2 separate regions of the Homo sapiens genome follow, and region 1 is linked to region 2. Evidence: fine-mapped expression QTL. Tissue or cell type: whole blood. Region 2 holds a variant in brackets; the other region holds the start of a gene. All regions are shown on one strand. Distances are between the middles of the regions.

What was found. PIP is the estimated chance that this variant, and not a neighbour inherited with it, causes the effect.
Region 1: CAV2 starts here. The variant in region 2 is fine-mapped to the expression of CAV2 in whole blood (INTERVAL, PIP 0.94).

What each region holds. Positions count from the first base shown.
Region 1 is chr7:116,495,955-116,503,577 of GRCh38, reverse strand. CAV2 (caveolin 2) reads right to left here and starts at 3,840. Exons shown (of 3, transcript NM_001233.5): 1 at 3,647-3,840; 2 at 3,131-3,318. The coding sequence starts at 3,796. CAV2-DT (CAV2 divergent transcript) reads left to right here and starts at 4,062. Exons shown (of 3, transcript NR_188012.1): 1 at 4,062-4,224. RefSeq lists silencers at 1,789-2,083, 3,868-3,957 and enhancers at 4,138-4,277, 4,324-4,825.
Region 2 is chr7:116,307,341-116,314,963 of GRCh38, reverse strand. The region is part of intron 3 of LOC105375463 (a long non-coding RNA gene); the gene reads right to left. Among named protein-coding and RNA genes, the nearest start is that of TES, 100 kb to the right of the region's middle. The variant C/T (reference allele first, on the strand shown) is at 3,272.

The DNA.
Region 1 (7,623 bases), 190 kb before region 2:
GGATTACAGGCGAGAGCCACTGCTCCCAGCCAGAATACAATGTACTTTCTATTCTTCCTTAGGCTAACAAATTTTCTATCTCCGTGACTCCTTAGATCTCCATGTCCTAAAAGGGAATTTAGCACATGTCAAAAGTGAATCTTCTTGTTCAGCAAAGCAGTTACCCACATTCGAGGAGTTCAGTTTATAGGGTGTTGTTAACTCATTTGGATTTTATTTTTGTTTACTTGTGTTCCCTCATTTTGGAGCAGAGAATCTAATGATCCTCCGACATCAAACTTAAGTTGGGTTCTCAACATCACAAATAGTTTAGCTTCTGAAACTCCAGGCAGTTCTGATTGACCCAAAATTTGGTTGAGGCTGAATGTGGCCAATACTTCTTAAGTAAATCTTATAATATATATATATTATATATATTAATATATGTAAGGTTATATATTCCTTGGATAATATATATCCTTGGATAATAAGGCCATAGGATAGAGACTTTTATTTAGTGTTGTAGTAATTGTAGAGTCATGCAGACTGCATTCATAGCAATTTACTGTATGAAAACTGTCTTCTAGAAATGAGATTGCTACTATCGCATTTCCATCAGTTGGGCATTTGTTTGCTTTGCATTCCAGCAAAAATAAGGGATATGGGTGCTCCAGCCACATTTCTTTGGTTATGATCCACTTATGACCAATAACCTGTGCTTAACAAACAGCAGCTATCTCTGTCTGACTGTAGTATGGAATCCAACTAATTCACTGATTCCTAATGGCCCGTACTTCTGGTCTAGGATCCAACACCACCAGACTTCTGTGTTTTATTGTTGTTGATTGTTTGTTTAAAGGATCTAAAATCTGACCTGTTTTAATATTGTGACATGGTTCAAAGTTCCACTACTGCATATTTTCCTAGCTTTGGTCACCACTAACTTTTTGGTAAAAACAATACACAAGCCCCTGCTTTAAAAAATATATATAAAAAGAAAACAAAACAAAAAAAGCTTGCCCAAATGGGTTTGCAATTCTGTAAGGTCTGTCCTTGATCTGGTCTTATCATGTCATGGGAATGCAATCTATTAATGATAAACCTATTTTATCAAGGCATAGCTAACTTTTAAGCATTCTTGTTTGAAATTACTCCTCTACTTGCAATCACAGCTGCCTGGTGACAAATGTTTTACAGTTAAATATTAATGCCCCACATAAATATAGTTAAAAAAACAAGCTGAAGTTAAATAATATTAAATAATACATTTTATGTGGCTAAAAAAAGGTGCATTGATGATTCACCAATTGAAGCACTATACAAAAACACCTCCCATTCTCAGAAGAGCCAGCTGGAGAGAGGCATTGCTTGGTTAATTGTAGTTTTACTTATATCTTTCCACCACTTAGTAAATGAGAAACTTTTTTTTTTCAAATTCTTTCACAAAAGCTTTGGGAAGCCTAGCTTTGTTGACTATAAATATGGTACTTCACATTTCCAAATAGCTTCATAGTCAGCATTTCACAATATGCTATGCGGTCACTCAGTTTTTCACAGTTTTGAAAGTGAGAAAACTGACATAGAGGTTAGATGATTAGTTTTAGTTAATTGGGAATCCCAAATCTTATGTGCCAACTCAGGGATCTTAAAAAAAATTCAAGTGCAAATGTCAGAATATAACTATCCATTTGACCTTCATGAAGCTGATCATGTACTAAGGCAACATTTTCATTTCCCTGGCAATCTTGGCACCTTCAACATAGTTTAATTGTTTACAACCTTTAGTGATAAAATTAAATTGGTGTTCTTTGTGTATCCTTTACGTATTTGGTGAATTTTCATTTATCCTTTCAAAGTCTTTTTCGACTCCTTTCACTCTTCAAAGCCTTGTCTGTTCCTCCCTCTTTGTCAGTTGACTGTGTTTTCTCAGCGTCCATCTCTGTACCTAGCCAGCTGCCCTGATAAGGCTGTGAGTAAGCTGAAGGCAGACCCTATCTCTCATTCATCCTGGCCCAGTGCCCAGCACAAACTAAGCACTCAATCAATTTAAAGTTTGTTGAACTAACTAGCTAGCTAACTGACTAAATAAATTAAGATTCAGGTGGTATAGAGAAATAAAGGATAAATTGGTAACTTCTAACAATGAACACCGAGTATTTATCAGGGTGTGGCAATATCATAAAAGGTGTAAGAAAGACACGGAGGTACCTTGGGTTATACCTTTCACCAGGACTAACCTGAAGCACTAGCGTGACAACTGTTGTGATACTGGGGATGATCTGAATATTCTTCCTCTCAGATTAAAGTGGATATTTTCTAACACAACAACATTTATTGGTAAAATATGACATTTTCCATAAAAAATTTAAAAGATGCTTAAGAAAGTTCTCTACAGTTTAGGACACATTTTGAGTATGAATAGAGTTACTCAAAATATCCTATCAATATACAGTGGGCTTCCATATTTCTTTCCCCTTTAATTATATGCCACTTCCATTTGTGTTTCATCAGTGAAAAAGTAATTTGGAGGCCTTCTCATTCATTATCCCGCAGCTGGAGTTTTCATTCGTTTGTACTGGGGGGGACCCTCGCCTTAACTGCACACACCTCCCTTTCCTCTGGGTCCCATCCTTGCCATCTGCCAGGGGCAAAGTTGAAGCAGCCCCTCCACACTACTGCTTAACCAGGTCTGACATCCTCATCCAATTCTACTGTCAGCGGCATTCTGCTCAGAGATCACTTTTGTTTTACCCCAAGCACAGGCAGTGACTGAATAAAAGGCAATGAAAGAAAGAAGAGTCCTGCCCAGAACCGCAGGTACGAGTCACAACAGGGCCCCGAGAGCAGCCTGTGGTAAGAAGTGTGGCTTCCAGGTACCCGCCTCCACACTCAGCCCAGCCTTATGTATGCAAGGAAAATCACACCCCAGGAAAGACCGACATTCTTTCTCCTGTTGAAACTCCAAGCCCAAACTGTTATTCTAAAGGAAGCGCATTGCCTTTCAAGGCCTTCCAGTTCTTCCTACTGCTTGGGAACTGATGCGCGTTCCTCCTCCTGACGCCGGCCTGGGATAAGAGGAGAGTAGGGGGCAGGTGGCGGAGAATATGCCCATGTTTCAGAAAGCCGGTCCACCCGGTGTGCCCCGTCTCACCAGATGTGCAGACAGCTGAGGGTGGCAAAGAGAATTCCCGCAATGAAGGCCAGGGGAATGGCCAGGAACACCGTCAGGAACTTGTACATTACGTATTTGCTGATTTCAAAGAGGGCATGGCTGCAGATCCACACTTTGTCAAAGGAGTGCGTAGTCACCGGCTCTGCGATCACATCCTCGAAGCCCAGCTGAGGAGACAGGACGCAGGGACCCCGAACTGTCAGCCAACCTGACGCCCCGGGAACCGGGAGCGCTTTGGGCGGGGGAAGCAGGAGGGAAGGACGTGCCAGGGCGTCCGCCTCTTCTCTTAGGGTCACGGTGGGCGCACAGGAACCTGGCTAAGAATTCCTGGCTACGCGGGCGGCCTGGTGACGGGTGGGACCGGGGAAGGGTGCGGGTCTCAGACCCTGCGGGGCCGACCCGGTAGCAATGGTGGGACGGGTTAGGGCGGGGCTGAGGGGCGCCCGCACCTCCCGGCCTCAGCGGGGACTTGGGCCCGCCCGCCCCGGGCTTCACCTTGAGATGCGAGTTGAGCCGGTGGGGATCCCGGTCCTGGTCCGAGTCCGCGAACTTCTCGGGGTCGGCGTACTCGAGGCCGCTGTGGTGGCTGTAGGAGTCGTCGTCCATGAAGAGCTGTACGTCCGCCTTCTCCGTCTCCAGCCCCATCGCAGCCTTGGTGCGCGGCCGCTGCAGCCCGGCTGGCGCGGTGCGGCTCCCGGTCCGCGCGGCCTCCCCTTCCCGTAGCGCCCGGCCCCGCCCCCCCTCGCCTCGCCTAGCCCTGCGAGGCCCGGGCGGCGGCCGCTTCCCGCTGTGGGCTCCAGCTCCCAGCCCGGCCGTCCCGAGCCCCGCCCCGGCGCCCCGCCGCCCCTCCCCGCCCACCTCCCCCGCCGGGGCGCAGGGAACCGTCCCCACGAGTCACAGCCCGGGCCCTGCAGTGGGCGGCGACGCCGGCAGCTGGGACGAGGAGGGCCTCCTGGTCACCCTTCTGGGGGCCCGTACTGTCATGCCTCAGAGCTGGCAAGTCGTCCCAGGGAAGACAACGGCCTTCCTGGAGGGAGGGAACCTTGTGGTTAGGCGCATGGGGTGCGAAGCAGGTATGTGCTCACCTCCGGCTGTGTTTGCCTTGCGTGCTGCGGCTCATGGTGCTGGTATTGAGCCTCTGGGAACCTCAGCTGCCTCGTTGGCAAAATGGGGGCTGTGGCATCTGTTTCAGGGGTGTCCGTGAGAATTAAATGTTAATTTCACATAAAATTCTAACACACATGGCCCATGGCCCGTAACACACAGTGATAAACTTCCAATCAACGTTGTTGCTGCTGTCGTGAGAGGTAAGGAGCCACAATGTACCTGAGTGCTAGGTACCTGAGTGCTAGGTGACCTGCAAGTGCATGTGGAGTTGGGTAGGCGAACGCCCTGGCCCTAGAGTTTGTGCCTTCAGATCTGAGGTGTGAGGGGAGATCTGATTTTTTTTTTTTTTTTTTTTTTACTTCCTAAACTACACCGTGTGTGTGTGTGTGTGTGTGTTTGTGTGTGTGTGGCAGAGTTTCGCTCTTGTTGCCCAGGCTGGAGTGCAATGGCACGATCTCGGCTCATCGCAACCTCTGCCTCCCGGGTTCAAGCGATTCTCCTGCCTCAGCCTCCCGAGTAGCTGGGATTACAGGCATGCACCACCACGCCTGGCTAATTTTGTATTTTTAGCAGAGACGGGGTTTCCCCATGTTGGTCAGGCTGGTTTCGAACTCCCAACCTCAGGTGATCCGCCCGCCTCGGCCTCCCAAAGTGCTGGGATTGCAGGCGTGAGCCACCGCGCCCGACCTCCACCTTTTAATTTTCTTGTGAACCAGACTGTCTTGAAAGATTCAGGAACTTCTAAGATGCAGTCACATCTGTGATTATCTTGCAGGCAGCACGGAAACAGAACCCTAACACAAAGCCACATTGCAATGGATGAATTAGCCTGCTGACCACTCACGCAAAGGTTTTCAGAAGGGAGGAGTTTGCATGTTCATAAAGGGCTTTAGGGTCTGGTAGACATATACGTGTGTTTGGGGAGGAAGGGCACTTAGTGAAAATTTGCCAAAAGCAAAACAATGAGAACTAGGCTTGAGGTGCAGGTTGCTCAGAGCTCAAAGTAGGCATGTAGTAGGTATTGCTGGATACAGTGTATTTGGAGCTTGTTGAACATATCAAATCCCCTTATGTGAACTGGATTTGAAGAATTGCTTCTTCCGAAAGAAAAAAGATCATTTTTGAAACAGTAAAAATTACAGAAATAAAAAAGAACAGGAACTGAATGAGAAAAATGTTTGGGGGTGGGAGGCAAAGTTCAATATTTCTAATAATTAAAAAGTTTCCCTGCTGCTACCTCAGTATATGAAGGGCAGTGTTGTAACCCTATAGGGTGTTACAGAGTTGACTCTCATGGCTATGGAGCCCCTCCTCTCCCAGACATCACCCTGCTTACCCATTCCCTTCTTTTTTACGTATCTTTCTCATTTTTATTTATGTTCAGTCAATTCCAAAGTGATGACTTAGACATTCTACTCATTGCATTTTCTCTGCTTCTCCACCTTGTCCATTCTCCTGATGAGAATTGGAACTCTTCTAGAATTGTTGCCCAACAACTGTTCATTAAAGTGAATAGAAGACATGAATCCTTATGGGAATCCATAATATCAACTGTGAGGAACAGAAAAAAAAAGGAGATAATTTACAGCCAAATACCATTTTATAATTATAATTCAAAATTATAATCCCAGATTTCAAGGTCTCACCCAAAGAAGAAAGTCACTGCCCTAGTACAAGAGTGGGCTTATGTAGTGGGTAAAAATCTGACATTAGCACTTCTTACCTTATAATTCTTGGTCCTCATTACATTTACATTTTCCATGGGATTATTAGGACATTTGAGAGTTATCACAAATAATTGATTTGTTTTCAGGAAGTGGCCAAGAGGACTCTTTAGACAACAGCTTCATTCGTAAAATGATAGGTATTTAAGAAAGGTGTCTCTAAATCCCATCTAAATGAGACCCATCTAGATTTGTTGTATGGAGCACAGAACTTGAAAGGAGAGGATTCATTTATTCATCCATTTGTAATTTTTTATTGAACAATCTTCTCTCCCTTGGGTCAGATCTGGTGAGGTTCTTATTTTGATGAAATTCTTATACATTTCAACATTTTAATACATAAGATTTTTTGAAGGAAGCTATAAAAATGATTTTGCTTATCCTATTGGCCAGTATTTAGATAAGGTTAGTGATATGGCTTGGATTTGTGTCCCTGCCCGAATCTCATGTGGAACTGTAATCCCCAGTGTTGGAGGTGGGGCTTGGTGGGAGGTAGAGATTAGATCATGGGGGCAGAGTTCTTAGGAATGGTTTAGCAACCACCCCCACTGCCACCCCTGCCCCCCGACCCCGCAGTTGGTACTGTATAGTGAGTGAGTTCTCATTAGATCTCGTCCTTCAAAAGTGTGTGGCACCTCCCCCTCACCTTTCTTTGGCTCCTTCTGTGGCCACGTGAGGTGATACTCCCTGTTTACCTTCCGCCATGATTGTAAGTTTCCTGAGGCCTCCCCAGAAGCTGAGCAGATGCCATCATAATGCTTCCTGTACAGCTAGTGGAACTGTGAGCCAACTAAACCTCTTTTCTTTATAGATTACCCAGTCTCAGGTATTTCTTTATAGCAGTGTGAGAACGGACTAATATAGTTAGCTACTGTTTTTCTCAAGAGGCTTAAACCAGAGTGATTCCCACAGCAATGGCATCTGTCCTTATGAACATAAAGGAAAATTTACCAGGAAAGGGAAAAGAAAGGGGGTGGGTGGGTGCTAAATGGCTGAACACATTCTAGTGTCTTCTGGATCACAGAATTACTCTCCAATAAGCACCTCCTACAGAGTTTACGTGCCCTGTAATCCAGAGAAATTAAAAAAATTATAATAAATTCCTACTGGTGCATTTATCTTCTGACTTATTATGTATCATAGCTTCTGATAAGAGGGCTGTTTTTTAGATGGTGTATTAATATATTTTAGAAATAACAGTCTGATAATAGATTAGAATTTGTGAGAAGGATAGTTTATAACCATTTTGTTACTCACTTCTTTCAGCACAGTGTCAATGGAAGAAGGTTATTTTTCTGGAGCATTGAAAATTGTATGGCAATGCTCTTATGAATAAAAATATCTAATTTTTTCCCTTCAGCTTTTTTTCCTTTTCAAATCACAAATGTGTCATATTTTTTTCCCTGTATAACGCACATGCAATTTTAGTCAGGGTCTGTTTTTCAAACTGCCTTTGAGCAAATTGGTATTAACGAAAATGCAGTAATAAATTCTTGATCTCACCATATGTTTTAATAATATTCAGAGTGTTCAGATTAGACCAGAGTTTCTCAATCTCAACCCTGTTGGCATTTTGGGCCAGATCATTTTTCCTTGAGAGACTGTCCAGTGCATTGTAGGATGTTTAGCAACATCCTTGGC
Region 2 (7,623 bases):
CCAAAAAAAAGTAAATGCACATGTTTGAGAGGGAAGCATGGCCATAGATATTGTGATGCCATGGGGAAATCGATTTCAGGCTTTAAATAAGGATCCATCACTGTGAGAGGCCATGAAGCTGTGCCCAAAAAAACTTCCTGGTGAACCAGAGGAGGAAGTGTTCTCTATGGGTAGGAGAGAGCTTCATTTCAGAGAAAAGAAGGAAGGACTAAGAGAGTTAGAGGCCGGAGGGAAAGAAGGGACAAGTAAAGGGAGTGGAAAATGGGTTGACCAAAGACAGGCAGAGCCATTCATACGCAGATCTCAGATGAAGCACTATTTTCATTTGGACTAAGAAAAAAAAATGGTGACTTCTTAACTCTTATAAACTGAGCACTACTCATTGAAAACCCTGGTATCAGTGTGCAAGAACTCGGTAGGGACTTTAGAATGACCATGTCTTTAGCTAAATAACAAGTGACTGAAATTCAGTCCCTTCCACAGCTGCTTTATCTGGCAAACATGTCTTCTCCTCCACTACCAGCCCCCCGGATAAAATACACCTGGCCAACTCCTGCTCATTCAAAACTCCATTGAAATGGCTTCTCCTTCAGAAGGCTTTCCTCATCCCTTTCAATTCCCATTCCCCTCACCAACCTTACTTGTCTCCTCTCAGATTCTGACTGGCTGGCCCAGGGTTTAAGAACTTCAACTCTACAGTCAAAACAATCTCTGCAATTTGCTGTCTGCGTGATCTTGGGCAAGTTATTTAATCTCTCCTTAACCTTAGTTTCTTCATGGATAATAGCTGGCAAATGATAGTATATATTCCATAGGGTTGTTGTGAGCACTAAATAAAATAATGTACATGGAGTGCTTGACACTGTGCCTGGACACTGCCTGACAGTGCCTGGACTCAGTTAAAGGTGGTCATAATTACTGGGCCAGTCTTTCCCCTTCCCTACATGGCATTTACCACATTCCCTTTCCACTGTCTATCTGCCTATCTATCTGAAGATCTGTTTGCATGGGGACATTGAATTGGAAGTTTAATTCCTAGTGCCTGGTACATCATGAGGCTCCATAAATGTTTGTTGCATGAATTCGGAGAGTAAGCCTCCCCATTCTCTACCATAAATGATACTGATGTCTGTGGTTGTATTTTAGAAAGGACACATTAGGCAAGAATCTGCCCAAGTCAAGCGATACCATTTTCTATTCTTTAAAAATATCTGAAAAAGGAGATTCTACAAACTCCTTTAGTAACATTCTACAGTCAACACTTTCTCTAAGTCAAACATATGCCTCCATTTTAAAATGAAAGACTAACTCCTAATTTTTTATATCAGTTGAAAACAAAAACATCTGCTTTAATTCCCTGTATTCTCTCATACATGTAAACATTCATATTGGCTGTTTATCATTCTCTCCTTATTAAAACAAACCTATTTCTTTAACCTTTTCAAATAGTCTTTTCATGCCTTTTAATAATTGTCCTTCTGAAAAATACTGTGTCATAACGCATAAAAACAGTGAGACAATTTTTGCAGTCTCAGAAGTGGTTCATTTAGGCTGGAGGCGGTGGCTCACTCCTGTAATCCCAGCACTTTGGGAGGCCAAGGGCAGATCACCTGAGGTCAGGAGTTCGAGACCAGCCTGGCCAACATGGTGAAACCCTGTCTCTACAAAAATACAAACATTAGCCGGGCGTGGTGGTGGGCGCCTGTAATCCCAGCTACGTGGGAGGTTGAGGCGGGAGAATCGCTTGAACCTGGGAGGCGGAGGTTGCAGTGAGCCAAGATGGTGCCACTGCACTCCAGCCTGGGCAACAGAGTGAGACTCCATCTCAATAAATAAATAAATAAATAAATAAACAGTTAAATGGGAGGAGTCAGATTATGAAAGTATATGAAAATCCCAAATTCCACATAATTTTCTCTGTAAGCAGAAGCAGCCCCTTCTTCCCTTTGTCATGAGCCTCTCCACTGATTCCTTGGAAACTAATAACAACCTTGCCTAAGATGGTTACCTCGTAAAGGAACTAATGTTCTAGAAATAGAAATATGTAAGAGCTTATTCCTTTCCATGCTTATGGCATATGAAATATAATATTTTACTGAATAGGCCACATACTGTCTCACAGATTTTCCTTCAGCTTAAGTAGCCATACCTACTGTCATGTAGCACCCTTAACTTTTCCACGGTTGGCTGAAGTAAGAATTGGTGTCCTGGCTAGAGGAAACCTATAACAGTGGTTCTTAATATTTAATGGGCTGTGACTTACTTGAGGATCTGATGAAAGTAAATCGTTCTCTTTTTTAAAGAAAGCACATTTTCACATACACACCCACAATTTAAGAGAAATCATGATCTCCTAAACAAACTTAAACCCTCGGGTAAAACTTCTCTAAATCAAGATGCTCTGATGAAAATTATAGTTTTTGATTCTGCATGCTAACAAAAGGCACTAGATCACCTTGAGAACTATAAGGAGTTGCCCTTTTGGGTAAGTTATCTTTGTGTCATGGAAGAGAGTAGCCATTCTCTAAAGGGCGTGTGCAAGATCCATGGGAACTGAGAGGGTAGCATCCATTAGCATGTGAGTGCGTAGATGTACATCAGGAAATGTACATGGTCTAATCAGAACTTTCATGTTTTGAGGATTTAAAAGAAGAAGCTTCCTGATGATCAAGATAAAGATTGTGAAATAACGAAAATCCAGAAAGTACTCAAAACCTAGCTTGTGACTTGGAAGAGGCTTTGCTCCAATGAGAAGGGAGAATGACCATGGCAATGGACATTGTTCCAGTGCCTATGGCCATAGCCAGAGGAAAGAACAAAGCTCACCATCCAGCCTGAGTCTGTGTGTCAGGCTAACAGATTCCTATGCCTCTGAGCCTTAGAACTTGAAAGGGCCTCATAGAAATACATCTAAATACAGCCAAATAGAAGGCCTGAAAGTGACATTGAGTCATCATATCTAGAACTCAAGAGAACTTCAGAGATTATGTAGCTCAAAACTATTTATGGGGGCAGAAACTGAGTCAGGCTCAGAAAAGTGAAATGAATTACCCAAAGTCACACAGCAAGTTCATAGCAGAGAAGTAGAGAATCCCAAGGTTCCAGTGTTCAGCCCATCATGATACTCTAGTTACTGGAGTTCTTGTCTGGAACATATTTTCATAATAAAACACCCACTTTTAGGATATGTAATTAACTTGAAGAGCAGCTCCAAGTTTCACACTTAACTTTAATGTTATTCACATTTATTTCATCATTCTCCTTAGAAATC[C/T]AATTTTAACATTTTACCAGTATATGTAGAAGTTAACTTTACTTCCCTTAAATTTAGGAGTTCTACGTTATTGCTATTGCACCCCTGTGATTTCTCTTTCTCCTTTTTAATGACTAATTTTGATATCAAAATACAGATATACACCAGGGTTCAATAGTCAAGAATCTAATCTTGCCTCTTTCTATTGGTAGTTGTAATCACTATTACAATTGCTGAATATGAATATGCTGAATATGCTAAATTTTCCCTCTTTAGGAATAACCCCTCTTTTCTTAAAATACTCTCAATTTTCTTTCCTTACATACGTACCTGATGAAACTTTGCATAAACCTGATTGTTCACCTTTACTCACCACCATTCAAGTACTCCAGTCTCTTCTTTTCACTTCCACATCTCTGGCAGTTCATTTTTGAACTCTTTTGCTAGCTCCGAATCTTCTACTATATGTCTCAAACTTGGAATTTTCAAATAACAATCGTGGTTTATTTTCTCACTAAACAATTGCCCTCAGCAATCTCACTCATCCCAGGCTTTGAATAACAAACATCAACCTCTTCTGAACTATTTATTAAACTGTCTACTTGACATCTCTCCTTAGTATTTGTTTTGTTTTGTTTTGAGACAGAGTCTTGCTTTGTCACCCAGGCTGGAGTGCCATTATCCTGCCTCAGCCTTCCGAGTAGCTGGGACTACAGGCATGCGCCACCATGCTGGACTGATTGTTTTATTTTTCATAGAGAAAGGGTTTCACCATATTGGCCAGGCTGGCCTGACCTCAAGTGATCCACCTGCCTTGGCCTCCCAAAGTGCTGGGATTACAGGCGTGAGCCACCACATCCGGCTTCTTTTTACTATTTCACAGGCATCTCAATATAATGTATCTAAACTGAACTCTTGATCCTTCCCCTAAACTTTGCTTCTTCTTCAATCTTATCCTACGCAATTATTAAAGCCAGATACATAGCCATTGTAGTGGAGTGAATAGGGATATGTCCCCTAAAAGATATGTCCATATCCCTGAACCATGAATGTGACTTTATTTGGAAAAAGGGTCTTTTCAGATGTAATTAAATATCTCAAGATTATATCATCCCGGTTATTCAGGTAGATCCTAAATCCAATGACAAATGTTTTTATGGGAGAAAAGCTGAAAAAGATTTAAGTGAGAGAAGAGGAGAAGACTATGTGTAGACAGAGGAGAAAATTGGTGTTTTCCAGCCACAAGCCAACGAACGCCTGGAGCCACTAGAAGCTGAAAGAAGCAAGGAAGAATTCCCTCCTAGAGCCTTCAGTGGAAGTGTGGCCCTGTTGACACCTGGAGTTCGGATTTCTGCCCTTTGGAACTGTGAGAAGATAAATTTCAGTTGTTGTAAGCCACCCAGTTTGTGGTCATTTGTTACAGCAGCCTCAGGAGACTAATAGAGCTATCAACCTGAATACTCCCCTTTCTGTTATTCTTCTTATCCAATCCATCACCTCCCCAAGAATTCTGCTTCAAGAATGTCACTTGAATAATGTGACTTTTCTCAAATTTCTCTTCCAACAATTTATCACTTTAGTCCAAGCTGCCGTTATCTCTTGCCTTGCCAACTGCAATAGCCAACTCTTTATCTCCCTATTTCTACTCTTGGATCCTCCAATTTATTCTCCATATATGAATAATAACCAATTTTAAAATTGTAAAAATATAAAATACATTCTTTTAAAAATGTAAAATGGATTTTCTCAGTTCTCTGCTTAAAATTTTCAATCATTTCCTATTACAACTGGATTATATTCAGAAGTTTTAGCATGAACCCTGGGCTCATCCCCTGCCTATTTCTTCAACCTCTTGTACTTCCCACCCTTTTCTCTCTGCAGCTCATTCACTTCCTTCTGTTCGTTAAACCCACCTATTTTTGTCTGCCTCATAGCCTTCACCCATGCCATTTCAACCGCTTTCAATATTTTCTCCCTGTTCTTTGCCTGGTGGCAGTCATACTCATTGTTCAGTATAAATGTCATTTGCTAAGAGAGGCATTTCCCAGTCCACAGATATGTCCTGATGATGCCTGTTATGCTTTCACATAGAAACTATACATTTCTTTTACAGAACTTACAATTTCCAATTATACTGATATACTAGAGACTATCCATTTAATGCCCACCTCCTCCACTGAACTCCCCATGAAGGTAAGACTCATATCAGCTTTGTCAGCCACCATAGTTAGAACATTAGTCCTAACTTTTCCCCTAACTTCTAGTCCAGCATCCCCAGCATCCAATAGACAATTATATTAGTAGATTTTACCTTTTTCATAAATTCTGCAAATCTAAACCAAACTCACCAACACACAGACATGAACAATTTGGCCTCTTTTCTGGGCTCCAGTTTTGCCTGTAGTGTCACGATTCCAGAGTGACCCAGAAGAGAATTCCCATGTAATCTTTGGCCTTTGTTCTCCTTTGCTCCTCTGTATGAAAGCAGTCACCAAGTTCTTACAGCTATCCTTTGTCTTATCTCTATTTTTTCTCTTTTGACTGCCTTCCTTCTAGATCTGGTCCACTCAACCTTGGCACTATGTACACTTGGGGATGGATAATTCTTTGTCTTGAGAGGCTGTTTTGTGTTTTGTAGAACAGTTAGCATCATCCTTGCCTTTTACCTTCCAGATACCAGTAACATCCCCTGAGTTGTGAAAAAAAATGTCTACAAGTGTTGCTAAATGTCTCTTGGGAGGCTAAATCACCTCCATTTGGGAGCCATTGTTCTGGAACATAAGCTTATTTCCTCTGGTCCAAGAAAACTACAAGATTTATTGATTCACTTCCTCCGGGCATTTTCTTCTTTTTTTCAGTTACTCAACATATATTTTACTAGACATGTACCATGTGTCATAGAATATCATGAGAAGCATGACTGACAGTCCCTTCATCATACAGCATATATACTAGTTGAAGGGTTCACACAGGTGCCATAATACTCTTCCTAAAGCTTAATGTATTCACTATATCACATAACTGCTCAAAAATTTTCAGTAGTATTATATCACCATGAAACTTATTTTGCAATCCTCAGTTTGCCTTCCACAGACTGGCGTCAGTATCAAATTTCCAGACTAATGTCCCAAACTTTTCTCCAGCACGTGCTCCACCAACCAATGTGTTGATTCATTGTACCTGTAAACTTATTCATGCCCTTACCAACTCCATTCCAACTACCCTGCCCATCTTTCTTTACTCAAACCAGAACCTATCTCCAAAACTCTACCTGTAGGGATTTGTACATTTTGTTCATCTATTAGAATTTGCTGATCATGACATTGATTTGGCACATATCTTGCCTTGCCTTACACTATATGCTAGAAGTTCTTATACATATATCATCCCATTACACTATAAATGCAGCTAGGCCCTAAATATCTCTGTATCCCCTATAACACATATTGCTTTACAGGTAGGAGAAGTTCAGTGAAGATTGCTATATTATTTGTTTAAACATCACCCAACTATGTCAGCAGATACTCCATGTCAATGTCTCATATTTTAAGAGATTTAGCAGCATTTGTAGTTTTAGTTCCATAATACTGGACTAGGGAGAGGGAATGTGGGGGGAAAAGAAAACATTTCACTTGGAGCTAGGAAATATTTTGAGTCTGACATCACAATTAATATGAGGGAAAATGAAATTTTCCTGAAGTGTGAATTTGAAGTTCCACAGGCTCTTGCCAGGCAAGAGCAGGTCCTGGTCCACCTGTGATAGTTGCATTAGAGCCAAGCCCTGCATTAAAAGAGATAAGAGTAACACAGGAGCTAAATATGTAATTTAGAAAAAGCAGAGGCTTTTTAAAGGAAAAGTATGAGGTGCCCAAGGAGTCACTTTCATTGTCAGAGTGAAATTTGGCTCTCTGATAAATTGAAGTCTCACCTGACCCCATGTAATGCAAGATCACAAGGTATTTCAAAGGCTGTGCCCTCCATAGTAAGACATTAATCAAAATCTCCAAAGGGACATTCAGAAAGTTAGTCACCTTTTTTGCAAATTAAATTTTATGATTAAATACTTGTGAACATCAGACTTCTTAAAACTTATACTCATTTCCCATATTTTTATGGAGGACAATTTTTTGTCAGTATACTGATGGAGAGAAATGGTAGTTCTTGAAAGAAGGAGACTATTAGATTAATTTATGTTAAAGTAAAATATGCAGAGACTGAAACAGAATGATTTAGTCATGGTTCCCCTTGCTTCCCTAGCCCACTTCCTTTTCATGCATTTTCAGTGAGATTAGTTACCAAGTAAAAGATTATGAAAAGAAAATCTATCTTTACCATTCATTTTGACTCTTCCACAAATCAAAGGGGATTGCTAT